Regions from separate parts of the Homo sapiens genome. Here all the other regions are reported to be linked to region 1. The links are microRNA targets in miRTarBase. Many come from high-throughput screens and were not tested one by one. Region 1 holds a microRNA gene; each other region holds the end of a gene's coding sequence.

Region 1 (4,325 bases):
AGCTCCATGGCAGAGAGGTAGCTTTTTCCAGCCTTCTTTCTGCCCTCCAATCCCCACCTTCACCTCTGACCCATCCCTGCTGCACCTACCTCTTTTTCTACCAAGCACTCATAAGGTAGATCCTGCTGCAGTGGACCTGTATTAAAGATATGTATCTTGATAAGAATGGAGGAAATAGAGGGATGGCCTTTTTCCATGAAGAAAAAGAGCCGCATTTCTTGAAATCAAGTAGAACTCAGGAGCAATATCTGGCCATTTATTTTCTAGGAAAGGTAAGTAATTAAAGAACATTCTAAAGAGACTCAAATATAGGATGTCTGTGCTTAAGGGCTGTTGGAGACCTTAGAGGTCAGGGACAGATTAGTAGATGAATATCCACATAACCATGGGCATGTCTGAACCTCAGTTACGTATGCAGTGACTAGTCAGAGCCTGATACGTAGTAGGTACTTAATGTATGGTAGTTATTGTCTGTTAAATGAGTTACATTTAATTTGAAAAATAGCTCAAACTGCTTAAGCACTAAATGAAGCAGTAGTTAATGTATACTAGTCTGGAAAAACTCACAAGGCAAGTTTCAAGAACCTGAATATCAGTGCCACTCACATGTTCCATTGTGAAGAAACATTAGAGTACAAAAGAGAGGTAGTAACTAGTGACAAGTAAGCTAATGTCCACATAAGAAAGGACCTGCAGAGTGTCAGTGAGTTATCAAGAATTGGAAGGGACCACTCACGTGATATGAGTGTAACAAGTCAAGGCAGGGATTTCTGATGAAGTACATTATTAGAAAGCAGTTTAAGGGCGTTAACTGAAAGTATATTGCTACAAAAGGTTGTCATCCTTGAAATTATTCATACAGCTACAGACTTCTCTAGGCCATCTTTTGTGCTTTGACATTTCCATTTCTAGCTAACAAGAACGTTTCCTTATACCTAAGAATCTAAATTTTTTTTACTCTCTGCTCTTCATGGTTACATTGGGAAAAAGCTGGATCAGATTGCCAAATACATGAGAAATTGCTTAAATGTGAAATTATTCATGTAAGCCTTCATGTGTTAGTCCATTTGCCTTGTTGTAAAGGAATACCTAAGACTGGGTAACTTGAAAAGAGGTTTGATCAGCTCACGGTTCAGCAAGCTGTACCTGAAGCATAGTGCCACCACCTGCTTCTGGTGAGGCTTCAGGAAGCTTACTGTTAGGACAGAAGGCAAAGGGGAGCCAGCGTGTCACATGGCCAGCACTAAAGCAAGAAAGAGAAGGGGGAGGCCCCAGACTCTTTTAAACAGCCAGATCTCATGTGAAGTCAGTGAGAACTCACTCATCACCAAGGGGACGGTGCTAAGCCGTTCATGAGGGATCTTCCTCCATGATCCAATACTTCCCACCAGGCCCACCTCCAACATTGGAGGTCACATGTCAACATGAAATTTCAAAGGGACAAATAACCAAACCGTATCACTTCATTTATATGCCATTGATCTAAGAGAGAAGAGAATGCTTTAGAAATTACATTTGATAAATTAACCAAGTTAGTATGTGGTGCTGCTAGCATCAAATCACAAGTATAACTTTGTTCACTCTCTTAAGGCTGTAAGCTGTGCCCACATGCTAAGCAGCCCTCATGATTTAAGAAAAAAAGTATGAGGAGTTAGGAAGTTTGCTACTGTACATCTAGGATTCATAGTTAAACCAATTATGGATAGAAGTCAGGTCCTATTTTCATTTTTCTCAATTATTTTTCTCTTTCTCCAGATAAAACTGGTGGTGGAGTGGCAACTTCAGGATGACAAAAACCAAAGTCTCTTCTGCTGGGAAATCCCAGTACAGATCGTAAGTCTATCTGGGGGTGAGAGGGCATGGGTGGAGGGAAGAAAGTGGAGGAGAAATCAGACTGAAACTAAATCAGTGCCATAAGATAAAAGGAATTTCAAGACTGCTGTTTTATGCCTCTCAACCTCTAAAAGCATCTGAGACCCTATTTCCTGAGAGCTCAGAACTGTTGCCTTTGTAATATCCTTTGTTAAAAAAAAAAAAGGTTGAAGGAAAGAAGAGAGAGTGAGACTGTAGAGATTGATTTAACTGTCTTCATTGGTTTTTTTCTGTCGGAGTAAGGAAGGTCCAGCCAGACAGGACCTGAAGGAGGTTGCTTAGGAATGTCTGATAACTTGCCCTAGGGTTATTGCCCTGACAGTGGAGGAAAGGTTCCAAACCACTTCCACTGAGCTGGGACATTACATCCACAGGTTTCTCATCTCTAAGTGCCTCATTGAGTTCGGTGCATCTGGCCAATGAGTCTGCTGAGACTCTTGACAGCACCTCCAGCTCTGCTGCTTCAACAACAGTGACTTGCTCTCCAATGGTATCCAGTGATTCGTTGAAGAGGAGGTGCTCTGTAGCAGAAACTGAGCTCCGGGTGGCTGGTTCTCAGTGGTTGTCTCATGTCTCTTTTTCTGTCTTAGGTGGTTTCATTAAATGCAGCACTTGGTTAGCAGATGTTTAATTTTTTTTTTAACAACATTAACTTGTGGCCTCTTTCTACACCTGGAAATTTACTCTTGAATAAATAAAAACTCGTTTGTCTTGTCTTCTGCATGTGGGCTGTGGTCTTCTCCTGCTCCTTTCAGGGTACATTCTGCTAGAACCATGGAAGGCAGGCCCCCAGTTCCGTGGTCCCAGAGTGCACTGAAGACATGACTTTTTCAGAAACTCTTTTTCCTCCTTTTTGTCCAGTAAGACCATATCTATTTTATATAAAATGGCCTTGTTTTGCTTTATTTGACACAATCTTATACCACCAAGCATGCTCGAAAGAAGCAGTGAAAGTAAAAATCACCTAGTTGAATAATAACGCCTGAAAGGTTGAAGGAACTGAATTTGGTGGGGAGGGCAGGTAGGGGTTAGGGATTACAGGTTAGGATGAGGCATGGTGATCTTTTGGGAACACTGCTGTGAAGAAAGCCTAGAAGCTTAAAAATGAAATGTGAAGTTGTAGCAAGTAATGGCTAAATTAATTAAATCTTGGAGTTTCCTATCTTAAAGTACAAGTATAATCATGGGCATATATTTTGCCACCTATTTTGAGTCAGTATACTAGCAGTCAGCTCTTAGGTGGTACAGGGATTACAACCCCATTCACAATTGAGTTGAATAACATGGACCTTAGGTCATCCATTGTTAGGGCAAAAGGAAGGAACATTCATACAAAGTGCTTGTGAGCAAGTGATTGATTTGATCCAGTTCTTTTCATCCCACTAATTTCACTAGACCCTTGGATTTCTTTGGTCTGTGAGTTTCCCAGGAAAACCACCAGGGGACAGTGATGGATCAGGAATACAGTTATCAACAGCCAAGCTTTCCTAGTTAATGCTAGGAGCCAGTCAACCAGTGTACTTTTTACCTAAGATCTTTTGTGTATCCTGCCACATTGAGTCTAGAGTGACAGTCCACCTTGTCTCCCATACCAGACTCTAGATGTATCAGAATTGTGTGAATTCCTGAGGCTGTTAACTGTTGTGCGGGTCTCTGGCTTCGGACTGCCTATGGTTGAATCCTGGCACCAACAATTAACAGGACTACCAGTGTGATCTTGAAATCACTTCATCTCTCTGTGTGTCAGTCTCCTTATCTGTTAAATAGGACTAATAATAATAGGGCTGTGAAGACTAAATGAGATGAGGCATGTAAAACACTTAGAATGACCCTGGCTATAGTATATACTCTCTAAATGTTAGCTGTCACTCTGGGAGACAGACATTCTTCTTTGTCTACAAATAGCAGGAAAATTAGAAGGTTCAATCTGAGATTTGATGATGTCTCCTCAGAAGGATGAGGCTATCCTCTGTGCACAAGAACTTTCTGAAAGGCCTGGAAAAGCTCAATTCTCATGTGTCCACTGTCTCCCTATTCCCAGAAGATTTCTCATGCCATTTAGCTCCTTTGAAGTTAACAGCTACCCACCCTGCATACTCCTCTGCCCTTGTGTTAAAAGAAGACAGGACTCACAATACCATGCAAAATGAGTACTTGCCTCTAGCTAGGAACAGTGCCTACTTCAGGGAGAATTGATTTTGATACAGCTGACTAGTTTGAGTGTTAAACTATTTTGGAAATAATTTACATATCTAAGTTCTAAAATATATTTTTCTTTCCTCCACTTATTCTTCAAATTTGAAACAATGTTTTAATACTGTATATCTTTCATTGTTTATAACTTGCATTCTTTGTGAAAATTTGTTCTTAGGGACAAAAAAATTCTTAATCTTTTTATGTGTAAAGCAGGAACAGACAGATAATACATAAACAGATACATATTATATCTGCGG
Region 2 (4,325 bases), not on the chromosome of region 1:
CACCTCAGCCTCCCTAGTAGCTGGGACTACGGGTGTGCACCACCATGCCTGGCTAGTTTTTGTATTTTTTGTAGACACGGGGTTTCACCATGTTTCCCAGACTGGTCTTGAACTCCTGGGCTCAAGCGATGCTCCCAAAGGGGATCCTCAGCCTCCCAAAGTGCTGGGATTACAGCCATGAGCTACCGTGTCCAGCCCAGTGCCTGTCTTTTTGACCTGTCTCCAAATCTGCCTTCTCTCAAACCTAGGCTAGAAGCCTAAGAAACAGCCAGTAACCTGTTGGCTTCATTCCTTCCCCTCCCATTAGAGTTACTGAAAGCTCTCGAAATTACGGTTACAATCCTTCTCCTGTGAAGCCTGAAGGACTTCGCCGCCCACCTAGTAAGACTAGTATGCATCAAAGCCGAAGACTCATGGCTTCTGCTCAGTCCAACCCTGATGTAAGTCACCTCAAGCTTATTCAGAGTCTAATAAAGGAAAATGGGCCATTGTCACCTCATCAAGTCCTTCACTATAATTACTGTTAGGTCTTCTCCTACTTCTTTAGCCTTGACTTCCTGCCTTATTTTCTTTCATCCAGCATCTAATCTTCCTCTTGCCACCGCCCTTTCCTGCCAAACCGTGGGTAACAGCAAGGACTTAAAGGAGCCCTTCCCATTTACTTCTCTTACTTCTTACCCTCCTGCTTCCCCAGGATGTCCTGACACTGTCCAGCAGCACAGAAAGTGAGGGGGAAAGTGGGACCAGCCGAAAGCCCACTGCTGGTCAGACTTCGGCTACAGCGGTTGACAGTGATGATATCCAGACCATATCCTCTGGCTCTGAAGGGGATGACTTTGAGGACAAGAAGAACATGACTGGTAGCCTGGAAAAATTTTGGGAATGGTGGGAAGAAATAGTAAGAAACTTGGGATAGAGCATTTTTTAAGGAAGCTAAAGAAGTAGTGGGTAAAAATTCAGATCCTAAGAATTGGAGCATCTCTGGGAGGGCTTTCTGACTCCAAGCTAAACTATTGTTTGACACATCCTCTCTCATTTCCATTTTTTTACTCTTTCCCCTCAGCTCCTTTGTCTAGCAGATCTAATTATGCTTGAAAAAAAAACCTGCTACTTAGGATCTTTGAGTTCCAGCTTATTGGTGTTTCTCAGCTGCAATGTTGGGAGAGAAATAGGGGTAGAATGTCCATTCATGATAGAATGTCTGTTCATGAGTTGGGATGGGTCCTGACCCCATTCTCCCTCCTGTCCAGGTCCAATGAAGCGTCAAGTGGCAGTAAAATCAACCCGAGGCTTTGCTCTTAAATCAACCCATGGGATTGCAATTAAATCAACCAACATGGCCTCTGTGGACAAGGGGGAGAGCGCACCTGTTCGTAAGAACACACGCCAATTCTATGATGGCGAGGAGTCTTGCTACATCATTGATGCCAAGCTTGAAGGCAACCTGGGCCGCTACCTCAACGTGAGACCCCTCTCCCCACCTCTAGATGCTGGATTATCCCATGGTCCTCAGATTTCTTTTAACATACTCTATAAGCCCTTTTCTTGTTATAAACTCTTGATCTCAAAGGATCTTAAAGAGGTAGCTTTCTTTCAAAGCATCTATTATAATGGGGAGGGTCAGATGGCATCATTTTTCTTCCAACTCTCACTCTCCCTGCAAAGCCAGGTTCAGTTTCCCTGGTTCTTATTTGATCCTGTCCTTAAACCTACAGCACAGTTGCAGCCCCAACCTGTTTGTCCAGAATGTCTTCGTGGATACCCATGATCTTCGCTTCCCCTGGGTGGCCTTCTTTGCCAGCAAGTAAGGAGTCAGGAAAGGGGATGACTGGGGAGGGGCAAGGACCACTGAAGTTCTAAGGGCCCCTCCTCCATTCATGATCCAACTCCACCTACATATTCAGTAACCCCAAGTGCCTGGGTTATCTGCTGTCTTTGCCACACACCATCCTTTTCTTCCTCTTCAGAAGAATCCGGGCTGGGACAGAACTTACTTGGGACTACAACTACGAGGTGGGCAGTGTGGAAGGCAAGGAGCTACTCTGTTGCTGTGGGGCCATTGAATGCAGAGGACGTCTTCTTTAGAGGACAGCCTTCTTCCCAACCCTTCTTGAACTGTCGTTTCCTCAGGAACTGGGTCTTCCTGATTGTTGAACCCTGACCCGAAGTCTCTGGGCTAGCTACTCCCCCCAGCTCCTAGTTGATAGAAATGGGGGTTCTGGACCAGATGATCCCTTCCAATGTGGTGCTAGCAGGCAGGATCCCTTCTCCACCTCCAAAGGCCCTAAAGGGTGGGGAGAGATCACCACTCTAACCTCGGCCTGACATCCCTCCCATCCCATATTTGTCCAAGTGTTCCTGCTTCTAACAGACTTTGTTCTTAGAATGGAGCCTGTGTATCTACTATCTCCAGTTTGTATTATTTCTTGAAAGTCTTTTAACAATATGATAAAACTAAGATTGTGGTTTTGTTTCTCTCTCTCAGCCCGATACTCCCAATTCTGGATCTTTCAGTGAGGTATTATCCCCATCCTCCCCTGTGGGCTGCTGTCATTCATCTTCTACCTTGTCTACCTTTGCTTCTTGCATGTGAATTTTTTTAGATGGAGTTCTCGCTCTGTCACCCAGGCTGGAGTGCAATGGTGCAATCTCGACTCACTGCAGCCTCCGCCTCCCGGGTTCAGGTGATTCTCCTGCCTCAGCCTCCTAAGTAGCTGAGATTACAGTCGCCCGCCACCACACCCAGCTAGATGTATTTTTAGTAGAGATGGGGTTTCGCCATGTTGGCCAGGCTGGTCTCAAACTCCTGACCTCTAGTGATCCACCCTCCTTGGCCCCTCAAAGTGCTCAAATTACATGCATGTGAAATTTAAAAAAGAAAATATTACATAACTGCAAGGAAGGCATAAGAAAGACTCTCTTCGTTTATTTAGTTGATCCCCCTTCTCAATTCCTAATAGTCTGACACTTATTGCCATGTTTTATTTAATATTTTTTATTTAATCTTTTAATTTTTAAAAAAAACCCATTAACAGTACATTTTGGTCTAAAATGGTCCCTCTGCTGAAATGCTAGGTGCTAGCCGTAATTCTGGCTTTAAAACCAAAACCCCAAATATTTAATAAATAAAAATTAGAATTAGTTGCCATTCTACTCCAAACCAGCTAGCCTAGCTGAAGAGAAGAGGGAAGGGGGAAGAGGCCAGAGAAAGGAGGAGGCAGTCAGATCTTAGACCTGTCGCTACAGGGACAGCTGAAAGAAGTAGCACTAAGAAAGATCATCCGAGCAGTCCCCAGTACAGCCCCCACTTTTTGGCAGAGGTAGGGTAAGGGTTATGTGCACCCTCCTCCTACCCTCAATTCATTTGTGTCATAGAGGGAGAAAGTTAAAAGCTCAGCTTTGGTTTCTGGCCCAAGTTAGGGAGCTTAGAAAGGTTAGCCTTGGTCCAGCTTTGGCAGAATGAGGCCCACAGATGGGACAATAAGGCACAACCCTGGCTCTGGAGGTCAGGGAGTCAAAGGCAAACAGCTGGGGCCAAATTCTCAGAATAAGGAATGTGAATTGTAACCCCTACCCACAGAGAGCTGAGGGAGGGCCTCAAAAGCAGTAGAAAGGATGACTTGGCGGGTAGGGAGGAAAATACGACCGTCCCCCTCTAACAGAATATAACCAACGTCCCCCTACCTGGGGATAGGCTGGTTAGAATTTGGTTTAAAGGCAACTGGGTGACAAGCAAGGAGGGAGGATGCAGAGAACTCTCCTCTCACTTTCTCCTTTTTCCCCAGAGCTTAAAGTGACCCTATAGCGCAGGGAGCGGGGTAGTTCCTTGGCTTTATGCATTAATCTGGGAGGCAGCTGGAGTAATGGTTCAGTCATTCTTACGATGGTTGTTATTGAGGATGGGGTGGCCATTGGCTAGGGGCCGGCTCTTTGCTCCTCCCCCAGCTGCAGCCTCCTCCCCCTCTGAGCTCTCTGTTTCTTCCCGGTCACTGCGTTCATCTTCTACCAGCTGTGGAAAAGGGACAAGAAGGGTTATTACATGAGATCCTCAAACCCCTAAGTACTGCTTCTCTCTGAGGGCTTGTTCCTGTTATACCCAGGGCTCCACACTAGTTTTTTAGAGAGTTACTGGCAAGATGGGAGTTCAGGAAGTTGTAGAGAGTAGTAAGGCCTACACAATGGGAACAGGGCTTCACCTTTCCAGTTATGAACTTGTGGGCCATGCGCAAAATGAGGTAGGCCCAGAAGATATGCAGCAGCTGTAGAACTCCCATCATGGAATTGAAGAAGTAATAGCCAAAGAAGGCAGGATAGAGCTCCAGTGG
Region 3 (4,325 bases), not on the chromosome of region 1:
ACTTTGCATTAATACTACAAACAGCTGGGACTCTCCTCTGAGTGCAGTAACTGAGGATGGTGAAGAGGGCGAAAACTAAGAGTGTTTGGGGTTCAGAGAATCCTCTTTTCAGTGTAAATTCTCATTCCTGCTCATTTCCCTTGTCCCTGGAGGAGGCAGCTGCTGTCTGCCGTCCCCCCAGCTCCCTATGAAGGCCTTTAGCTCCTGGTTGCCTGAAACTACCCCTTCCCTCCCCACCTCACTCCGTCAACACCTCTTTCTCCACCTGTCCCAGGAGGCTATGGGGCCCTACGTCTTCCTTCTATTTGCGGTCCTCCTGCTGGGCTTCTTCATCTTCACCTTCTTAAGAGTACCTGAAACTCGAGGCCGGACGTTTGACCAGATCTCAGCTGCCTTCCACCGGACACCCTCTCTTTTAGAGCAGGAGGTGAAACCCAGCACAGAACTTGAGTATTTAGGGCCAGATGAGAACGACTGAGGGGCCAGGCAGGGGTGGGAGAGCCAGCTCTCTCTACCCGGCCCAGAGACCCCTTCCTTTCCTCTGCAGCACTTTAACCCTCTCTTCCCTATTATTTCCGGGTGGAAAAGAATCCCTGCAGCCTGGTAGAATTGGGAAGCTGGGGGAAGGGTGGTCTGAGCACCCCCTCATTCCCCTCGTGTGACTCTCTTGGATTATTTATGTGTTGTGGTTTGGCCGTGGCCATCAGGGTGGGCCACTCTCCCCTCCCTCTTCCTTCCCCCATCCCCTTTCCTCCCCACCTTCCCCAGACTCAGCTCCAGAATACCTTCTTCGCTGCTAGAGAAGGGGGATTGGAGGGAAGACAGGTCTAGACTTTCTCAGTGGGACAAACCAGAGCAGAGAGCAGGACAGGAGACAAGAAATCCAGTTTCCCACCACCTTGGACTCCTCCCACAATCTGGGACTTTCACTGAATTCTTGCCACGCAGACTCTGGGCAAAGGGGTTTTTTTTTTTTTTTTTTTTTTTTTTTTTGAGACAGTCTCGCTCTGTCGCCCAGGCTCGAGTGCAGTGGCGTGATCTTGCTTCACTGCAAGCTGTCTCCCAGGTTCACGCCATTCTCCTGCCTCAGCCTCCGGAGTAGCTGGGACTACAGGCGCATGCCACCACACCTGGCTAATTTATTTTGTATTTTTAGTATATACGCGGTTTCACCATGTTAGCCAGAATGGTCTCGATCTCCTGACCTCGTGATCTGCCTGCCTCAGCCTCCCAAAGTGCTGGGATTACAGGCGTGAGCCACCGCGCCTGGCGAAGGGAGTTCTCTCTTGACCCCTGCAGGGAAAAGGACTCACCTCCCTCACTGCAGGCTCAGCCTTCCAGGGCAAGAGGGAACAGGAAAGTATGTGCCCATGTGTGGCAAGATGGAAGGACGGCAGGCTCCCGCCTCTAGGCTTGGGGCTCTACCCCGATGGTTTCCCAAGGCTGCCAAGAAGGAGCCCTAACTTTCTTCCTCTCCCTTCCTGGAAGGGTGCTGCATCCACAGGCTTTTGACCAACTAAGGCAAAGAGGGGATTTGAAAGGCTGCCTGGAAACACTGGGCTGGGAGGAGCCTTTGGATATTTTTATATACGTTTGAAAAGGGGATTGAGAGAAGAAACCAAAGGTCGGTTGTACTAAATGTATATATATAGATACTTCTATAAAGTCACTGCTGAAGACAAGCATCCTATTGTGGAGGTACTTGAGGATGGGCTGAGACAGGGACCATAACTCTTCACCCCTCTTCCTCCCTCTGTCCTGCCTCAGCTCAAGGCCTCAGAATCTTCTGGATGCCATTGCTCATGCCCCTACTCACATTTCTACTCGTTGCTTTATTAATAGTAAATGCTCAATAAATTGTAGCTGCCAGTGCCGGGCATTGCTCTTGGCATTTGCAGAATACTCACTCTGTGAGGGAGGTGTCAGCCCATGTCACAGATGGGCAGTGAAACCCATGATAGGGGCACTCTTCACCAGGGACACAGCTGGAGACATGGCAGCAAGGATGCCAGGCCCTGCCCACGGCCCCACATCCCCTCCTCCCCACCTTCAACAGTGAGTTACTAGCGATTCTCCAAAACAGAAGAGATGGAGACCAAGACCACAGGAAAGCCTGTTTTTGTTTTTACTGGAGGCTCAGGTGGCACATGACAGATCATAAAATGGCTTCAGAGGTAGGGGGCCGGGGGAAAACAAAAATAAACTTGGGGTGGGGGCAAGAAAAGCAACCAGGAGGAGGTAAGAGCTGGCTGGTTCCTTCTCAGCCTGAGTTACGGGAGGGAGTTGCTGTCTCTGAACAGTAAGGATGGCTCCCTTCCTTCAACCCTTGATAAGGGGAGGGAAGAAAAAAGAAAAAGCAAAAGGCTGCTGCTTTGGTCCTCCTGAGTCTCAAGGAAAAGGTGAAAAGCTGGTGTTTTGATGTCATGAATTATGGGAAAGGGGGAGCAGGGTACTGGGTAGGGTACAGGTCATTTGGAAAAACTGGCAGATACCTGAGAGAGAAAAGGAAATGGACGGATTGTGAACAACAGCGACTTGTCATCGCCACCCAGTACCTCACCTTCCTGGCCACCCACCCAACTGCACCAGCCACTCACCAGATGGCAGCTCTGGGTGTCCTCTGAGTTGAGTTGGAATCACTCCAGGATGGTGGTGGTGGGGTCCCCACTGTTGACAGGGGCTGAGGTCTAAAGAACAGCGGTGGCCAATTGAGACTTGTTCTTTTTGTTTTTGAGACAGAGTCTCACTCCAGGTTGGATGGAGTACAGTGGCGTGATCTTGGCTCACTGCAAACTCCCCCTCCCAGTTCAAGTGATTCTCCTGCCTTAGCCTCCCAAGTAGCTGGGATTACAGGCATGTGCTACCACGCCTGGCTAATTTTTGTATCTTTAGTAGAGACGGGGTTTCTCCATGTTGGTCAGGCTGGTCTTGAACTCCTGACCCCAACTGATCTGCCTGCTTCTGCCTCCCAAAGTGCTGGGATTACAGGCATGAGACATCGCGCAGGGCTGAGACTTGTTCTTCAGGGCCCTGAACTTCAACCTTCTTTCACTTTTTCCCTTCCCATTAAAACCTCAATCACACCCCTCAGTTCACATCTACAAGCTGGTAGGATGGCTCCAGGCAGCAAGTGGGGGATGGGTTGGGGGGGGCATGGCCATCATGGGCAATCATGGGCTTGATTGCCTCTGTGGGGGCTTCCTGGTGGGAGGCGGCACCTGCCAGGGGGGGACCCAGCAGGCTGCATGGAAGAGGGTGGTGGCAGGGCCAGGGCAGGGGAGGGGAGGAGCCAAAGGATAGAGTAGGAAAGAAAAAGGAGCAGGTGGGGGAGGGAGCTGGTCTCAGCCTTTTCTTTCATCCCACATCTGAGGTCCTCACCTCAGGGGCTGCGGGCTGCCGGGGGCCAGGGGCCTGCTGGGGGCCAGGGGCCTGCTGCCGTCTCCGCTGGAAGTAGGGGCGGTTTCGTGGGCGCTGGGGCTCAGGCCGGGAACCATCAGCGGGACCTTGGCTGGGCTTGGTCTCACCATCCCCACCTTCTGTGGTAGGCTGCTGGCGTGGCCTGGGGCGGAAAGGCCTAAGGCAAGGAACAAGGCTCTGAGGGGACCAGGGAATACTCCCTCCCCAGGGCTCACCCAGCTGCCCCACCCCACCTCCAGGAGCCAGGCTTCCAGCCCATGAGCACTGCCTCCCCGCAAGGCACCTGTCTCGCCAGGAGCCCAGGCTCTGCCTAGAGCTTCACCCTTCCATCCTCCTGTCCCTTGCCCCAAGGATCCAACACTGGAAGGGGAAGACCAAGCCCCAGCAGGGGGGTCTTACCTTCGGTACCTGGGCCGGAATCTGGGCGGGGGGACTCGCTCATCTCCCTGCTGTTGGTGCCCCTCCAATGGGGCTGTCTCTTTGGGTTCTACCCTGTCAGTGCCCTGGGAACATGCAAAGGCCCCGGTGAGCTGTGGGGACAGCAGCTGCTCTGGAGCCAGATTATCCACAGCTCTGCCCAACCCTCAGTTCCTCCTTCTTTGGGGACCCATGGTCTCTATCCTAACTCCCACTCCTCTCCTGAACTTGGGGAACTGGCTCCCATATTCCAGCATCCCCTCACCTCTATAGGCTGCTGCTGGTTGGGAGGCCGGGGGCCTCGCACAAACCGCCGTCGGTAGAAGAAGGGTGGGGGGCACCATCGTCGGGGCCGTTGCCCAGAGTCTTCAGCCCGCTCCCCTTTACTGCCAGGTCCTGTCCCCGCCGAGGGGATCTCTGCCACCATGGGTGGTGGGGCAACTGAGGGAGGCCGGGGGATGAATCGGCGGGACTTACGTCGGTTGGGGGCA
Region 4 (4,325 bases), not on the chromosome of region 1:
GGAAAGATAAAAGAAAAACAATAATAATCTATCAAGGTACCCCAAGTAGATGTAAATTTGATATACTTTGTGAACCTTTGATCTGTGGCAAATAAACATTACAACTGTCAGTCTTGCAACATAGTTTTGCTTGTTTTTCTAAAACAAAAGATATCTGGATTCTAAGTCACTACTCTTAAGACAGAAGCTTGAGGCAACTGTTTTAAAACAAAGCAAAACAGAAAATGATACCTCTACCTTCTTGGAAGATTTTAAATGCATGTTGCAGTGAGTGATTTAAATTTTTATATATTAAATGAAATTTACGAAAAGTGCCACATACTGTCTCCTGGAGAAGACAACCCTTTAATTCACTGTTCACAATTAATGCAATTTTAATAGTTATATTTAAATGTTAAAAATTGTTACATTTGGCCTCATTGGCCTTTCTGGGTGGGTCGTTGGTGATAAGGAAATAGTTTTTCGAGTGTGAAGAACCCCCATAGGGCAAATAGGTTTAACTACAGTCCTAGACAGGTTCAAAGAGCTCTTGGAAAACTAATTTCCTTCTTAGTGTCTCAGGTAGATCAAGGATGAAGCAAGTTAAAATAAGAATAGGTACTACAAGACTCAAGAACTCCTCACTGCTTTCTTTTTGATCCCATCATTCCTTTGTGTCGGAAATTCAGTCTTTCCAGTTGTTTTTGTTAGTCCATTCAAATGTCCATTTGGGGACATGCTCCTACAGGTTAGTTCCTATTCCTAACTCTAACACAAGATAATATTTCATCACAGAAAAGATGCTAAGGGAAGATCTGGTCATGCAGGAGTTGGACTGAGACAGCTCTGAGTGAATCTCCTTGAGATTACAGTGTCGCACACACACATAGGCTCCCGCTGTTTTTCAGGAGAGCATAAAGTTATTTCTTTATTCCCCACCACATGGAATCTTCCACGTCTGCTGTGATTCTGATGCGATGAAATGACCAGATGCAGCGGCTTCCTGACACATTTCCTTCCCCAGCAGATGTAAAGTAGAAAAATACATTCTGAGTATTCTTTTCCACTTGCGTTTAGGTTCAAACGGGAAACAAACCCTTCCGTCCTCAGCTGTTAATTCCTTATAGAACCTCCACTCCCTTGACTTCTTTCCCTACCTACAGAACTCAGTGAATCTCAAGCCTTACTCCGATTCCAACCTGCCACAGAGCCTTACATTTGGGAGTATGTGTGTGTGTGAGGGGAGGGGTGGGGAAGACAGAGCCAGAGACATAAGCAAACAGAGAGGCACACACAGAGGAAAAGCCAGATGAGCAGAGTCCCAAAGACATGCACAGAGCCAGAGAGACTCAAGAAAGGTCAGTGCAGGGGACTTGGAACAGGGAACAGGAGAGGGCAGCTGGGGCTGCTGTTACCCAGGATGCCCAGGCGTTCTCACATATGCAGAGAGAAGAGGAAAGAGAGCCGGCCAGAGAAAGAAGAGCTGGAAGACACAGAGAGTATGAAGAGAGTTGGGAGGAAGACATGGTGAGGCTCAGCGTGGATGCATTGCTTCCTCTGATTTGCGTGGAGGTCACAGACACACTGCTGAGTTTTAAGCTCAGAGTGTTACCATTCAATATCTCATCTGAAGAACTGATTAGCAGACTAATCACTACTTACAACTCTTCAATTCCTTCTATCCAATGTTGAAAAAAATTCCATTTGAATGGGATAATTAGAGTAGCCCCCACTTAGGACGTAAATTGTACCCCACTGCAGCCAGGACCAGAATGCTATCACTCTCAGGAATGAAATCATTCAGAGCATAGCTGCATCGGGGGCATGACCAGCACTATCCTCTCCCTGACCGTATTCCCTGACCTGGCTGCACAACCCACTTGATCGAGGTTAATGCAAGCCATCTTTCTCCTGAAGACAGTCACTCCCTTTGGGCACATTTAAATTAAAGCACCTATCAGAATGCAAGTCCAGAGGCCCTGGCCCATCCGTCACAGTGTATAGAACGGTCTCTTTCTACAGAGTAAGAGTGACCCTATCCTGGTGCCTTTAAATCTAAAAACTATTCAGTTCCTTTGGTGGGCAATCTTCCTGGAAGCACTGACAACTTCCTCTCATGGGTGAACCATTGGCTTAAGCTTTCAAGCAGGGATCCAACTGGATCTCCCTGAAACCACTGCCACCTAGCTGCAAAGCATGCAACCGGGTGCTCTAGGAAGCCTGGTGTTGCAAAGAAGGGAAGGGCAACTCTGTCAATGTGCCCAAGGGCCACCTGAAATGAAAGTCATGAGCAGCCTGGGATTAAGCACTTTTGTTGTAGTCTTCATAAAGCAATGTGCAACTGACAAGAAATAGCAAACTTCCTTCTGCCTATGTCCTCACTCTTCTTCCACTGAAGCCTTCTCTCATCAGCTGGAGCTCACTATCTGCTACAGCTTGGAAGGCCTTCGCTTTCCAGACCAAACTGACTCAGGTGACAGGAATCACAGCTGACAGCTACAGATCAGCACAACAGCTGCTCTCCAGTCCTTCCAGCCGCTGCATCGAGGTGTCTAAAAGAGACAAAGCTATGGCATGTGGTGAGGGTGCTTATAAAAAACAAAACTCTCAGGATTCATTCAGAGCAATCCCAGTGATGTTACAGATCTAATTAGCTAAACTAAAAAAACAGGGGTTTTCTCCTTATTTCTGCAGTTGTGATTACACATGGCTGGCAAAATGGCTGAAATGCTATTGATAGTGTTGCTTTTAAACTATACAGGTGTTCAGTCTTAGTTTACAATGTTTTGAAGCAGGTAAGTGCTTTGAAATTACAATGATGAAGAGTTTTAGCATCAAGGTTTGATTTGTACCTAGTAATCAGTGTGTCTGCCTTAGTAGTACTGACTAAAAAAATTTTTTTTTGAATTCTGTTAGAATTCAAATTTGCTGTTTGACTTTTGAATTCAATGCACTGTGCCACAAGCCTGACCGCGCTATGTTATGTACATTTAATGTGTACTCAAGGAGGAAAAAATTACTAGCACTACTGAAAATATTGCAAAATTGCCATAGTTACCGCTTAGAGATACTAGTTTTCTTCTCTTCTTTCTTAAAGTATATATTACAACTCTTCCATAACTTAATGCAAACAAAGTAAATTCATTTCTTCTCACATCTTAAAGCAAAGATATCTTTGTTTACATGCGAGAATAATATTCTATAATAATACCCTGGCCCTATGAGCCAGTACTTTATATTAGGACATAATAATAAAATGATGATATAGAAAGAACCAGAGAGACCTACACACTGCTATTGATGCAAAAATCCATTTGGAAGTTTTCTCTTGTAAAGGGTATCTAAGAAAGAGAATAGGGCTGAGGGGTGAAATGACTTTAGAAGTGGGCTCCTATTTACTAAGAAAAAAACCAAAGCCATTCTATTGCAAGATACAGATCAAAGGTTAAAAGGCAAATTATACTACATTTAGAGAATAAAGATGTAGTAATTGTCAACCCTTAATACGGCACATATGCAAGTGTGCTAACACAATTTGCACTGGCCATAGGAAAAAAGCACTATGGAAAAACCACTGACTAAAAATGACTGAAAAACCCCGTTTCCCTGTTTCAGTCTAATCATTTGGCATCTCCGAATGTGGTACAGATTTAGACTTGAACCACCAAAGAACATCACGCTGTCTTATGTCAAATGCTCGACAATACCTCTCAGTAGGACGTTGTTGCAAGGCTAGCTAATTTTAAATCTGGTATGAGTAATACAGTCAAACCTAGTTAGTATGCGAGAAAGTCGTTGCTAACGCATGGTGAGAGGATGTGACGTCACAGCATGAGCAGTCCCTGGTTGTCCCATTGTCAGATAAACGTAGTGCATAGATCCAAGTTTCTATTCCAGGTCTCTGAACCCCAAAGCCAGGCCTTTCACTTTTGCTGGGTGGCCTGGAAGGCCTTCAGCTCCACCTGGTACCACTCAGGGGCTTCAGGCCCACTCTTCCCGGGGGGGCTGTGGTCATAGCCATAGGCAACGGTGAGCTCTTCATCGGCCTCCACTGCTCTCAGGGTGCGGATGCATTTGATGGGCCCAAAACGGGGGTGGACAAACCTAAACATCAAGATGCACACAGTCATTCCCGGGCCAGACCAGGAGGTTGGAAGCAAAGGCTAGGGAGGGGCTGATACAGGAATCACCCCCAGGCACTCTTCCCTGGGCACACCTGGTATGTGCCCAAAGTGTGGTCACCCAGCATCAGTTTCACCCGAGAGCTTATTAGACATGGAGCATCTCGGCCCCATCCCAGACCTGCTGGATTGCAATCTGCATTTTAGCGACACCCCCAGGCGATC
Region 5 (4,325 bases), not on the chromosome of region 1:
TAACTGATGACATTCCACCACAAAAGAAGTGTAAATGGCCGGCCCTTGCCTTAAGTGATGAGATTACCTTGTGAAAGTCCTTTTCCTAGCTCAAAAAGCACCCCCACTGAGCACCTTGTGACCCCCCACTCCTGCCCGCCAGAGAACAAACCCCCTTTGACTGTAATTTTCCTTTACCTACCCAAATCCTATAAAACGGCCCCTCCCTTATCTCCCTTCGCTGACTCTCTTTTCGGACTCAGCCCGCCTGCACCCAGGTGAAATAAACAGCCGTGTTGCTCACACAAATCCTGTTTGGTGGTCTCTTCACACAGACACGCATGAAACGGATCACTCACAACATAGCCCTTGCTGGAGATGTGTTCACAATCCTAAAAACTCCATGAGAAAGCCAACTACCATTAGGAAAGTCAACAGACACAGCTAACAGAAAAATTAGCATTCTCCAAAACTCAAAAAAATAGAATTGAGACTATAAAATATGGTTAAAATGATTCATAAAAAGAATAAAAACTATAATAAAAAATTATGAAAAAGATAAATTTGAGAAAGAATCAAAGACAACTTCAGAAACAAAAAAATGAAGCCTAAAAAGTTCAATGGCTGGAATAAACAGATAAGACAGGGCTGAGAACAGAATCAGTGAGATAAATACGAAGGAGTTAACTGAGAATATAGTGTGGAGAAACCTAAAATACATGAAACAGGACAGGTTCAACACAGGTATAAAAGAAACCCCAGAAGGAAAGAACAGACAGTGGGGATGAGATAATACTCAACAAAATAAGAACATCCAAAATTTTCTTAATGAAGAACACAGAGATAAGACCTGAACAAGAGGAATAAAAATAAATCCATATCTAGGCGTGGTGGTGTGCACCTGTAATCCCAACTACTCAGGAGGCTGAGGCAGGAGAATCGCTTGAACCTGGGAGACAGAGGTTGCAGTGAGCGGAGATTGCACCATTGCACTCCAGCCTGGGCAACAACAGCGAGACTCTGTCTCAAAAAAATAAATAAAATAAAATAAAATAATAAAATAAATCCATACCTAAACAGAGGTGAAAACAAACACTGAAGACAAAACAAGGGGAAAATGTGAATCATGCTTGTTATCAAATAAATAATCCAAAAATGTATATATATGCTGTATGCCTAACATCAATTTCATGCGGAGATGCTGATTTTAATACACAGGATGGCAGCGTGCCCTCTAGCTCACTCACATTCTGCGGGAATGGGTTTAGGTGCAGCTCAATTTCAGAAAACCTCAATTTAGTCCAAAGTTTGTCAGTCTAAACAGACTCAGGAATCTACTACTGCCACACATCCAGGGGCAACAAACTGTTTATGTTGAGCCCTGCATTTGTACTCTCAATTTCCCCAGCATACACACTATTCTACTATGTTACAACTGCCAATTTTTCTTAATGCCCAAATTAATTCAAGTGTTGGCTTTTATAACCTAATTTATCCAGCAATAAAAGCACCTAGAATGTATTTTGATGACAAGAACCCCATCTTGTGGCAAAATGTTTCACAGCTGAGTTTGGCTGTGTACTGTAATGCCATTCCCACTCTGAAGATAAATCTGCGTTGAGAAGTTATCATTTTATCTGCTTTACCAGACAGAATTTCTAACCCAGCATTTATCTTGTGTCTGCGACGGCACCAAAGTATGCAGTAAATCTGCGGAACACAGTAATTCTGGGGCTTTGTGAGTTATTTTCAAGTGAAAGCTGGTAGTCTTTGTGCAGCTTACTGCAGGAATATTTTAAGAGAAAAACAAACACTGACTAGGGTTAGCTTCTGAAATATTATCTGTCCATTCTAGGAAGAGTTCAGATATTGCACTTCCTATAAGATGAACTCACTTAACTAAAGCAATCAAGACAAAACCTCCCCAAATCCACACGAATTGACACCATAATTAGCACCATACATAATAAAGCTACCCCACACACAGCACATTCGTATTTCATAGCATTCATGTTATTTTTCTAAAAGGTGGCTTTTAATCAATTTCTCGGCCCTTCCTATTTTAAAAGACAGTAGAATTACATTCTAAAATATTCTTCCCATTTTTTCTTTTACTAGGAATGTCCAGCATGGGAAACATGACAAAATGCTCTCTACGAATACAAAAACATTAGCCGGACATGGTGGTGTGTGCCTGTAGTCCCAGCTACTTGGGAGGCAGAGCCCAGGAGAGGTCAAGGCTGCAGTGAGCTAAGACCGTGCCATTGCACTACAGCCTGGGCAACAGAGTGAGATTCTGTCTTTAAAAAAAAAAAAAAAAAAAAAGGAATGTCTTCCTCAATGTTTTCTACTGTTCCTATTTGGTTTTCCTGAAGAAATTTTAAAAGGCCTTATTGTTAATAAGCTAAAAAATGTAATGAAGCATTGAGCATGATATCTGGCTCAAAAACATTAGTTATTATTATTGCTTTTATTATTGTTGTTATTAATGACAATTAAATACTGAAAGACCCCCAAAATAGCTTATCTTCCACAACTGGCAAAGCCTTAAAGAAAAATCCAGTTCAAAGAAGTCAAATTATATTTTTATCAAAAGCAAAACTGAAACAATACTTTTCTCCCCTCAAAATCTGTTTTTAAAGCGTTAAAAAGGACAGTATATCAATATTAAAAGAGCTTTTTTATTTGTTAATGTCACATAAGAAATTTAAGCAAGTTACACTATCTTAAAAAACACAACGAATGCATTTTAATAGAGAAACCCTTCCCTCCCTCCACCTCCCTCCCCCACCCTCCTCATGAATTAAGAATCTAAGAGAAGAAGTAACCATAAAACCAAGTTTTGTGGAATCCATCATCCAGAGTGCTTACATGGTGATTAGGTTAATATTGCCTTCTTACAAAATTTCTATTTTAAAAAAAATTATAACCTTGATTGCTTATTACAAAAAAATTCAGTACAAAAGTTCAATATATTGAAAAATGCTTTTCCCCTCCCTCACAGCACCGTTTTATATATAGCAGAGAATAATGAAGAGATTGCTAGTCTAGATGGGGCAATCTTCAAATTACACCAAGACGCACAGTGGTTTATTTACCCTCCCCTCCTCATAAGAACTTAAAAAAAAAGAAAAAACACACATACAAAAAAAGTCAAAAAATTTGAGGAACCCCTTCCGAACAGTACACAGTTATTAAGTTCAGTGTCAATAATTCACATCTTGCAACAAAGTGTATGGACATGATTTCTTTTACAAAACTTTCAGTGTCAAAAAGGAAATTAAGGCCATCAGATTTGCAGCTTAAAAATTCACATAAAGGAAATATAAAAATATTCTGTGCTTCTGAGAAGGCTCTGCACTGTATACAGGTAAAGATTACCATACTTCTTTATTTTGAGGAAGACAGTTGAAAATTTTACATAATTGCACAGCTTCTATTGGATGCTCTTGGGGTTCCCTGATGAGGAAAACAGAAGGAAAAATTAATACTAAAGAAATAGATCACAGTATTCTAAAATAAGACAAAAACTTTTAACTACAGGGATACCAAACCATATTACCTAACCTCAAATGGACCCTTTATCATCTCTCATCTTTTCTAACCTTTTCTTTTTTTCTTTTTCTTTGTTTGTTTGAGATAGAGTCTCACTCTGTTGCCCAGGCTGGAGTGCAGTGGTGCAATCTTGGCTCACTGCAACCTCTACCTCCTGGGTTCAAGCGATTCTCATGCCTCAGCCTCCCGAGCAGCTGCGACTACAGGTGTGCATCACCACCACGTTAGCCAGGCTGGTCTTGAACTCCTGGCCTCAAGTGATCCACCTGCCCTTGGCCTCCCAAAGTGCTGGGATTACAGGCGTGAGCCACCGTATCTGGCCTCTAACCTTCTTTTATGGACTTCTTTCTAGAATACCCCCCAACAAATTCCAGAACAGTAATTGTCAACTCTGGCTACACATTCAGATCCTGAGGAGTTTAAAACAAATTCTGATCTAGGTCCCTTGATCAATCAAATAAGAATTTCTCATTTTACTGGGAAAGGGTAGCTATCTATATATAATTTTAAAGTAATTCTAATGTGCAGCTCAATTTGAAAACCATTGTTCAATAACCTCTTTTGATAACTTAGGAAATAGGAGATCAGTGGATCAGCTTTTAACAACCACATCGGAGACTACAGCTTGCTAGATCCTGAACTTACACATCCCAAGCCATCTGCAGTGGATTTGTCCTCCAAGGTGAAGTCAACATGGCTCCTCTACCCATTTCTTTATCACTCATTAATTTCATATAACCTCACAATATGACTTGTGACTCACCACTGATTGAACTAAAACTGGTTTTTTG
Region 6 (4,000 bases), not on the chromosome of region 1:
CGGACCAGGAGAACTCAAGTGGTTACCAACTGTTGGGAGAATAAGAGCAAGATGAATTACGCGAGATGCTTTCACAAGATGATTTCTTACAATGGCAAGCTTTATGTCTTCGGTGGTGTCTGTGTGATCTTGAGGGCCTCTTTCGAATCTCAGGGATGCCCTTCTACAGAAGTATACAACCCAGAGACTGATCAGTGGACCATCTTGGCATCCATGCCGATTGGTAGAAGTGGCCATGGTGTGACTGTGCTGGACAAACAAATAATGGTTCTTGGAGGCCTTTGTTATAATGGTCATTACAGCGATTCCATCCTCACTTTTGATCCGGATGAAAACAAGTGGAAGGAAGATGAGTACCCTCGGATGCCCTGCAAGCTGGATGGTTTACAAGTATGCAACCTGCATTTTCCGGACTATGTACTGGATGAGGTCAGGCGTTGCAACTAATGACATCCTCCTCCCTAAAAAAAGAGGCAAACAAAGTATTTGTTTGCACAGAGTAATTAATTAAAACATATAAAGAAAAACCTCACCAGTTTTACTATCAAAGCCATTGGTCTAACATTGTAAGAATTTTTCATTCTGTGCTAGCATCCTTTTTTTCTTTTCAGTGGCCTCAAACTCATGCAATAAGTTAATTCTAAGTGCTAGCTCTTGAAACTACTTCCAGAAGCAGTTGAATAGAATGCTCCACTTATCTGGGATATTGATTTTCTGCTTTAAACATTTCTTTCAGATGTTAGCGTAGGAGTCATGTGTCTTCTAAGAGAAGACCCGATAAGTGTCACTGGATGTGATTTCAGTCTCTGTCTCTATCTGAAACCTTTTTGAAGATTTATTTCAGTGTATTTCAGTCTGTTATACTTTTTAGTTTTATTATTTAAAAGTTTAAAACTCTTGACCTTTTTGCATGGCTTTTTGCTGAAAATGCAAAAATATAAATTTTCTACAAAATTAACTTTTTATATTCAAAACACTATTTCTAAGCTGCCTTCTCTTATCCGCATTGTGTTAGTGAAAGCATATTCATACTCGCATACAACCTATAAATACACAAGGCACATCCCTTTTATGCGTGGTTAGGATTCTATATTTTTAAGCTAGTGCACTTACTTGCACACACAGTTCGCCATACTTGTTGAATTTTAGATGTAACGTCTTTTCACATATTAACATTTTTAGAAAGTTGAAATAACTGGAGTCCTCATTTGCTATCAAAGTAGCCTATCTTCAGTCCATACTGATTCAGTAATATTTGAACTCCTTATATTTCTGAAACATGTATGGTTATGAAAACTAACACTTTATATTTTATTTTCAAAAGTAAATGTTAGTGTTCTTTGTCGATGTATGTCTTTTCTTTTTGAAAATGTTTTTCTTTGCAGTCTGTTTAACGTTACCCTGTTTTTAGTGAGAATCGGAGTGGTATATGACAAGTTCTGGCCCTGCAGCATGCAAGCACTTTTAAAGAGCATTTAGGTAATACCAGACTCCTAAATCAAGGCCCCTTAAAAGTAAGTGCAACTCCCATTTTTTACATTCAGTAAGGCTGCTGCATTTGTTATTGAATGGAAGGTAGAAACTCTTAGAAAATTTGACCTCAGTTTTGACTTAGAGGTAAGAAATAGAATTATAATGTTACTGGTTTTATCTACTTGTTTATTTTGTACAAAATACCCAGCGACACTAGGGATGTAAGCCCTCAGTTTTTGTTTTATTTACTGAAAGCTATTAGCATGAAGGATAGTAACCACAAAGTTCAGAATGGATCAAGAATAGCTGTTTAAAAGCATTTATAATAAGTGTTTTAGGATTAGCTGCACCTTTCAACTCTTTAAATGCAGAGGAAAAAACATAGTTGACAAAGTTAAGCAAGAATAACCTGGGAGTGGATCATTGAAATTGATGCCATTTGCGCATGAGTAGTCTATATCTGATACAGACTAGATCTATACTGGCAAAACTTGCCAGATCTTAGAATATTGGTGCAATATTGCAATGCCTTCTATATGGCTGCTGATGTATAAATTTTCTAGTTTCACTTTGTTTGGTGTTTTTTGTTTTTTTGTTTGTTTGTTTGTTTTTTTGCTGCTGCCACCATTGAACATAAAATGGAAGTGTGAAGTCATGGAAATGTGAAGACTTTGGTTTTTGGGGGTTTTTTGGGCAGTTATTAGACATACTATGAGATTAAACCTGATCTTCAAACTCCAGAATTGGAGGCATTTGGGTTTAAGAAACCAGGTACATAAGTAGCTTTTGAAAAAACCATTGGCATTGATTTCAAAAATCAATAATAATCTTATTTTATATATGAGACTTATATTTTCATTAACTAGTCCTGTCATTTACTTACAGTTTCCAAACATGAAATTTGGTATCTTGTTTCCCATGGTAATATGGGTAAAAGTCTTTTTCTACATTTAAAAAATACATTATTTTATTTTTGAAAGTTAGGAATAAGTTAGCCATTTAATTTTTTTCTACATTAGTTTAGTGGCTTTGTATGTGTGCTATTTTGCTTTAAAGAAAATAACGTCTTCATTATTTTCCTCATTGATGTCTTTTGCTAGAAAAGACCAAGAAAGAGCCATCAGGCCAGGTATCCACATCAAAGCCTTTACACTATAGTGGTGGTTCTCTTTAATTGCTTAGATATGACTTCATGACCCTAGTCAGGGTGACATCTGGGCAAACATTTGAGTATTCTTGGTCTTCCATTTTAAAGACAGAGGCCAAGATCAAAGTTCATGTTTTGTAAAATTCGTAAAATCTTAACTTGAACTAACTCTGGGTTCAGCTTTACGTAAGTCACGTCGGACCTGATGTTAGCTGTAATCAGTTTTGAGCTTTAAGGATAGTTGCTGTTGCTTGGGTTCTGAATGTATGAGAAAACTCCCTGTTTATATGTAGTTCTAATTTAGGTTATTTTAAATCCATGATTAACTTACATTCCCTTTTAAAATTATGGTTTTATTGCTGCAAGAGATTTATTTTTGTTATACTAAACTATGGAAAAGTTTTTCATAGCATTTTTTTCAAGTTTATTTTTTGTGTGCTTCATTTGGAGTTTTTGTTTATATACATTGCGCTCAAAAAAGTAGTTTTTTGAAAAATTCAGTAAGATTTGAATCTATACAGTTTAACTGTTATGACCTTTATGCGTGTTGTTTTCACTTTATATCTCAAATGCCAGAGTTCACAAAAATAGCTGATCTTCATTAATTACATCTTAATTAGAACCATTTGTTCTCTTCCGTGTCTTTGACCTTCTAAGTTTTGATTTTAAAGAAATTCCTTGCACTACAGCCTTTTCTTAAAATGCAAGATTCTCACTTTGAAGGTTTTGTGTTGGAAGAAATGCTACTGGTTTTTAAAAAGCAAAGCTTAACTAATAGAATTATTAGCTTTTCTTGAGACAGCTTTCTGTGTCCTCATTACTCTGCTCTGTGTGAGTGTTACTAGAATTTGTGAAATACTGACTGAGCCCTTCACTTATCTTTTCTAAAGCAGCACCTTTGGACACCTCATTCTGGGAAGCCTGCTCGAGTCATAGTAAAGGACACACGCTTTATGTGGGGAGAAGTGGTAAAAATGGAGTTTTGTCTTAATTACATGAAACTAAGCTTTAAAATATTTTATAACAGATTATTTGAGCTGCATAATCTAAACATGTCAAACGTTCAGTGGGACTATTTTTATATATGTATATGTGGGTGTAGGTCATAACATTTCAGTTTATAATATAAATTGTTATTTCAGTTTATAAGCTATCTCTCAGAGGAGACTAGCTCTTTTGAGAATTCATAATTTAAAGTTTTAGACTGAAGTAAAATGCAACATAGATAATAGTGTAAATCAGATATAATTGAGGGCTATATGGCAGTAAAACTGCTAGTGCCAGTTTTCTTGTTTGCCTGTTATACATTTTTGATTTTTGTTTTTGTATTCTGAACATTTTGAGAGATCATATGTTTGTTCAATTACATTTAGAGTTGGT
Region 7 (4,325 bases), not on the chromosome of region 1:
CTCCAAACTGCACATCCACCAGCGAGTCCACACTGGAGAGAAGCCCTATGAGTGTGAGGAGTGTGGTATGAGCTTCAGTCAGCGCTCAAACCTGCACATCCACCAGCGAGTACACACAGGAGAGAGGCCCTACAAGTGTGGTGAGTGTGGGAAGGGCTTCAGTCAGAGCTCGAACCTTCACATTCACCGGTGCATCCACACAGGAGAGAAGCCTTACCAATGCTATGAGTGTGGGAAGGGTTTCAGCCAGAGCTCGGATCTTCGCATCCATCTCAGAGTCCACACTGGAGAGAAGCCCTATCACTGTGGCAAGTGTGGGAAGGGATTTAGCCAGAGTTCCAAACTCCTCATCCACCAGAGAGTACATACTGGAGAGAAGCCCTATGAGTGCAGCAAGTGTGGGAAGGGCTTCAGCCAGAGCTCCAACCTTCACATCCACCAGCGGGTTCACAAGAAAGATCCTCGCTAACTGACATTAGCCCATTCAGGTCTTCACAGCGCTCATACTGTAAAAACTGTTAAATATTTAGTATCACTCTTACTTTATATTCTACAAAGGAGAGAGATGTAAGGGTTATTTAGATATGTTCCCTCACTGAAAAATCACTCATTCAAAATATTTAAGTATCAAGCACTTTGTTATGCTGTACAATGAATGGATTGTTCTTGTTTCTCAGATGGGTAGAGTAAAAGTGTCTGTACTTTACAATTCAACTACATGTTCTACCCAGCATTTTAACGGCAAGAACTTTATATTTATTCTCAAGCAGGGCATGTTTCCCTTTGTTCACATTCTCTGAGAAATTGAAACTCTGGTTTCTCTTCAAATTTTGTGCCTTGTGTTTTTCATACTTCTTTCCAGTCCTGATTAGCCCCCTCTAAACTATGATTGTACACTGCGTCCATTTTAGGCCAAGAGGGCAGTTGGAAATACAATGGACATGGAAATTATTGTGTTTATTGCAAAAAGATATAATAGTTTGTAGCCACACAACAAAAAGCTGGAAGAGAGTTACTCATGTAGTACATTCCCATATACCATTTTGATAGGAAGTTGAACAGCCCCTCCCAGGCAACTATTCAGGAACATAAGTAGTCCTTTTTGGTGAGTACAGCTAGTTTATTGGGATACTTCCAGAGTGAATGTGAGGAAGGGTCCAAAGTAACATGCCTGGCACTTTGGGAGGCTGAAGAGGGTGCATCACTTGAGCCTAGGAGTTCGTGACCAGCCTGGGCAACATGGCAAAATCTTGTCTCTATAAAAAAGTGCAAAAATTAGCTGGTGTGCTGGCACAGACCTGCAGACCCAGCTACTCAGGAGGGGTACCTGAGAGCAGGTGATAATAACAAATAGGTTCCAGAGGCAGAGCTGGAAAAATGAATACATAAGGAGCAGGGGGCAGCTTAGAGGCTGCAGAAATCATGTTGGGGCTTGATAAGCTAAAAATGGCTAGCACAGAAAGTATTCGAGAATGCACTTTTGTTAAACATGTCTCATCACATTGGACAACATTAAGATGCGAGGAAAATTTAATTTATCAAACTACAGCAATAAGGAGAATAGGAGAAAGACTATCAGCAAATGAAAATTTGAAAGATGGAAAGATAGCCAGTAGAGCAGAAGCAGGCACAGTTATGCTGCTTGCATATGGGGATAAGGAAAAGAAGGAACCAATTTGGCACCAGGCTCAGAAATGCTTAGTACCTTGGAAGATGGGAGTGAGATGTGAAGAGAAAGCAATGAAACTAATGGCCATTTGTATATGGAACATACCTCCTCATTACATAAACACACACTGCTCCCCAACTCCTGTACGTGGCTGACCAGAGGTTTAACGTCCAGCAAGAAATGGGAAGTTTCTTCTCTGCAGAAGTTGAATGGCCCCAAGGGAAAGACCTCTGTATTATGGGAATTCGGGAATCCTACAGCAAAGCTACTTTCTAGCTTAAGTACACATAAACAGAGCTTCAAAATTCATGAAATAAAAACTGGCAAAATTGAAAGAGGCACAATTTCAATTATAATTAGATAGTTAAATAAGTAATTGATAGCACAAGTCACTTAGGAGGTATAAGCCTTGAACAGCACTATCAACTAACTTGACTAATTGGCATTTGTAGAACACTCATTAGCATGATATATTAATATATTTTTATTTTTTAGGGACAGTGTGTCACTCTTTCACCCAGGCTGAAGTGCAGTGGTGCAATGAGTTAATTGCAACCTTGAATTCCTGGGTTCAATCAATCCTCCTGTCTCAGCCTCCAGAGTAGCTAGGACTATAGGCATGTGCCACCACACCCAGCTATTTTTTATTTTTGTAGGGATGGAGTCTAGCTCTGTTGCCTAGGCTGGTCTCGAACTCACAGGCTCAAGCAATCCTCCCTCCAGGACCTCCCAAAGCACTGGGATTACATATGTGAGCCACTGTGCCCAACCTGTATACATTCTTTTCAAGTGTGCCTACTATGGACTGTAATAAAACAGTCTTAAAATTTTTTAAAGAATGAAAACCATACAAGGTATATTCTCTCACCAGGACAGAATTAAGTAAGAGACCAATAACAAAGATGTCTGAACAATCTCTTAGTATTTGGAAATTAAACAACATACTCCTAAATGAGCAATAAAGAGAAAGTAAGAAAAATTTGAAAATATTTTGAACTGAATGAATATGTCAGAATTTGTGAAATGTAGCTAAAGCAGTGCTTAGAGGTGAAATCAGAGATAAAGATTTCAATTCGATAGTCTAAACTTCCACCTTACGAAATGAGAAAAAGAACAGAAATCATCCAAAGCAAGTAGAACAGGAGATGATACAGAGCTAAAAGTCACAAAAATCACAAGTGGACAAACAATAGAGAAAATTTAATGGAACCAAAACCTAACTCTTTGAAAGGGTTGAAAGGATTCCTGTATCAGGAATGAAAGAGTAAATATCACTATAGGTCCTATACACCAAGAAGGTAATACAGGAATTTTATTAGTAACTTAATTCCAATAAATTCAGCAACTTAAATGAATTGGAAAATTTTATCCTAAGGACTATAGAACCAAAGCCCACTTGAGAGAACTTGAATAGTCCTATTAAATTGAATTTTTAGCTGATAACCTTCCCCCAAAGAAAAGTCATGAGACCAACATTGCCCAGATACCAAAGCCAAAAAGGACATCATAGGAAAAACTCATAGATCAATATCTCTTAATATAGATGTAAAAATCCTTTTTAAAATACCAAGTTGAACACAGCAATCTATAAAAGGAAACACATATGGCCAAGTAGGGTTTATCCTAGAAATGCAAGCTTTAACATTCAAAAAGCAATGTTTCATATTAATATTAAAAAGAAAAACCACAATTTTTTTAATGTAGGAAAACATTTGAAAAAATTTAACACCCATTCATGATAAAACCGCTCAGTTGATTAGGAATTAAATTGAGTTTCAAGAATCTAAGAAAGAGCATCTATGGGAGAACCTACATCTGACATCGTACTTACTGGTGAAGTAAAAAGCACTTTTCTCCTAAGATTGGAAACAAGAGAAAGATGTCTAGTCACCACTTCCAGTCAACCTTGTAGTGGATGTCCTAGCCAGTACAATAAGCCAATAAAAAAGAGGCTGGGTGTGGTAGCTCATGCCTAAAATCCTGGCATTTTTGGGAGGCCAAGGTGGGAAGATTGCTTGAGCTTAGGAGTTCAAGACTAACCTGGACAATATAGTGAGACCTCATTTCTACCAAAACTTAAATAAAAATTAGCCAGGCATAGTGGCATGTGCCTGTAGTGCCACCTACTCAGGAGGCTGAACAGGAGGATCACTGGAGGCCCAGGAGATCAAGGCTGCAGGGAGCTGTGATCGCACCACTGCACTCCAGCCTGGGCGACAGAGTGAGACCCTGTCTCAAAGAAAAGGGATACAGAATGTGAAAGAAGGCATGAGACTGCTGTGACATGATTGTCTATATGGAAAAGCATAAAGTGTCTGAAAATGTTTTTAAAACTAGTAAGTATGTTTAGCAAGGTCACAGGATACAAGCTCAATATTTTTAAAAAGTTGAAAGTATGAAAACGGCATCAAAATTATGAAATGTAGGGACAAAGTTACTAGACCTGTACTAAAGCTACAAAACATGTACTAATGCTAGAAAAAAGTAAATAAGTCCTAAAAATAAATAGATACACTGTATGCATGAGTTATAAACCTCAAGGACCTACAAAGTCAAAACAATTTTTTAAGATTTTTTTCTTCTTCTTCTTTGAGATGGAGTCTCCCTCTGTCACCCAGGCTGGAGTGCAGTGGCACGATCTCGGCTCACTGCAACC

What was found. The annotated mature microRNA hsa-miR-4709-3p reads UUGAAGAGGAGGUGCUCUGUAGC and lies in region 1 at 2,378-2,400, shown strand. An mRNA with a match to its seed (bases 2 to 7 or 8) in the 3' UTR can be bound and repressed. Matches are read on the target gene's strand: a 7mer-m8 pairs with bases 2 to 8, a 7mer-A1 pairs with bases 2 to 7 and ends in A, and an 8mer does both.
Region 2: the mRNA of CERS2 is a reported target of hsa-miR-4709-3p. Seed matches in the 3' UTR shown: 7mer-m8 at 3,175-3,181.
Region 3: the mRNA of SLC2A4 is a reported target of hsa-miR-4709-3p. Seed matches in the 3' UTR shown: 7mer-m8 at 1,732-1,738 and 7mer-m8 at 1,967-1,973.
Region 4: the mRNA of SETD7 is a reported target of hsa-miR-4709-3p. Seed matches in the 3' UTR shown: 7mer-m8 at 2,799-2,805 and 7mer-m8 at 1,482-1,488.
Region 5: the mRNA of LMNB1 is a reported target of hsa-miR-4709-3p. Seed matches in the 3' UTR shown: 7mer-m8 at 3,011-3,017.
Region 6: miRTarBase lists KLHL15 as a target of hsa-miR-4709-3p. Seed matches in the 3' UTR shown: 7mer-A1 at 2,201-2,207.
Region 7: the mRNA of ZNF239 is a reported target of hsa-miR-4709-3p. Seed matches in the 3' UTR shown: 8mer at 820-827.

Annotation. Positions count from the first base shown.
Region 1 is chr14:74,478,210-74,482,534 of GRCh38, reverse strand. MIR4709 (microRNA 4709) reads left to right here and starts at 2,331; the gene lies at 2,331-2,402. It overlaps NPC2 (NPC intracellular cholesterol transporter 2), which reads left to right. Exons shown (of 5, transcript NM_006432.5): 4 at 1,756-1,833; 5 at 2,247-2,595. The coding sequence ends at 2,261. It also overlaps a transcript of SYNDIG1L not described here.
Region 2 is chr1:150,962,280-150,966,604 of GRCh38, forward strand. It overlaps CERS2 (ceramide synthase 2), which reads right to left. Exons shown (of 11, transcript NM_022075.5): 10 at 4,197-4,325; 11 at 2,907-4,009. The coding sequence ends at 3,869. SETDB1 (SET domain bifurcated histone lysine methyltransferase 1) reads left to right here. Exons shown (of 22, transcript NM_001366418.1): 18 at 308-440; 19 at 695-860; 20 at 1,251-1,462; 21 at 1,716-1,804; 22 at 1,968-2,458. The coding sequence ends at 2,085. Among named protein-coding and RNA genes, the nearest start is that of CERS2, 10 kb to the right of the region's middle. RefSeq lists enhancers at 2,502-2,646, 3,139-3,283 and cis regulatory regions at 2,574, 3,210.
Region 3 is chr17:7,286,152-7,290,476 of GRCh38, forward strand. SLC2A4 (solute carrier family 2 member 4) reads left to right here. Exons shown (of 11, transcript NM_001042.3): 11 at 275-2,106. The coding sequence ends at 478. It overlaps YBX2 (Y-box binding protein 2), which reads right to left. Exons shown (of 9, transcript NM_015982.4): 5 at 4,100-4,325; 6 at 3,817-3,920; 7 at 3,379-3,574; 8 at 2,598-2,687; 9 at 2,112-2,492. The coding sequence ends at 2,637. Among named protein-coding and RNA genes, the nearest start is that of YBX2, 6.3 kb to the right of the region's middle.
Region 4 is chr4:139,507,761-139,512,085 of GRCh38, forward strand. SETD7 (SET domain containing 7, histone lysine methyltransferase) reads right to left here. Exons shown (of 8, transcript NM_030648.4): 8 at 1-4,083. The coding sequence ends at 3,903. Among named protein-coding and RNA genes, the nearest start is that of SETD7, 46 kb to the right of the region's middle.
Region 5 is chr5:126,835,336-126,839,660 of GRCh38, reverse strand. LMNB1 (lamin B1) reads right to left here. Exons shown (of 11, transcript NM_005573.4): 11 at 2,641-3,438. The coding sequence ends at 3,397. Among named protein-coding and RNA genes, the nearest start is that of LMNB1, 60 kb to the right of the region's middle. RefSeq lists enhancers at 1-60, 61-805.
Region 6 is chrX:23,984,368-23,988,367 of GRCh38, reverse strand. It overlaps KLHL15 (kelch like family member 15), which reads left to right. Exons shown (of 4, transcript NM_030624.3): 4 at 1-4,000. The coding sequence ends at 447. Among named protein-coding and RNA genes, the nearest start is that of KLHL15, 41 kb to the left of the region's middle.
Region 7 is chr10:43,552,847-43,557,171 of GRCh38, reverse strand. It overlaps ZNF239 (zinc finger protein 239), which reads left to right. Exons shown (of 4, transcript NM_001099282.2): 4 at 1-828. The coding sequence ends at 469. Among named protein-coding and RNA genes, the nearest start is that of ZNF239, 20 kb to the left of the region's middle.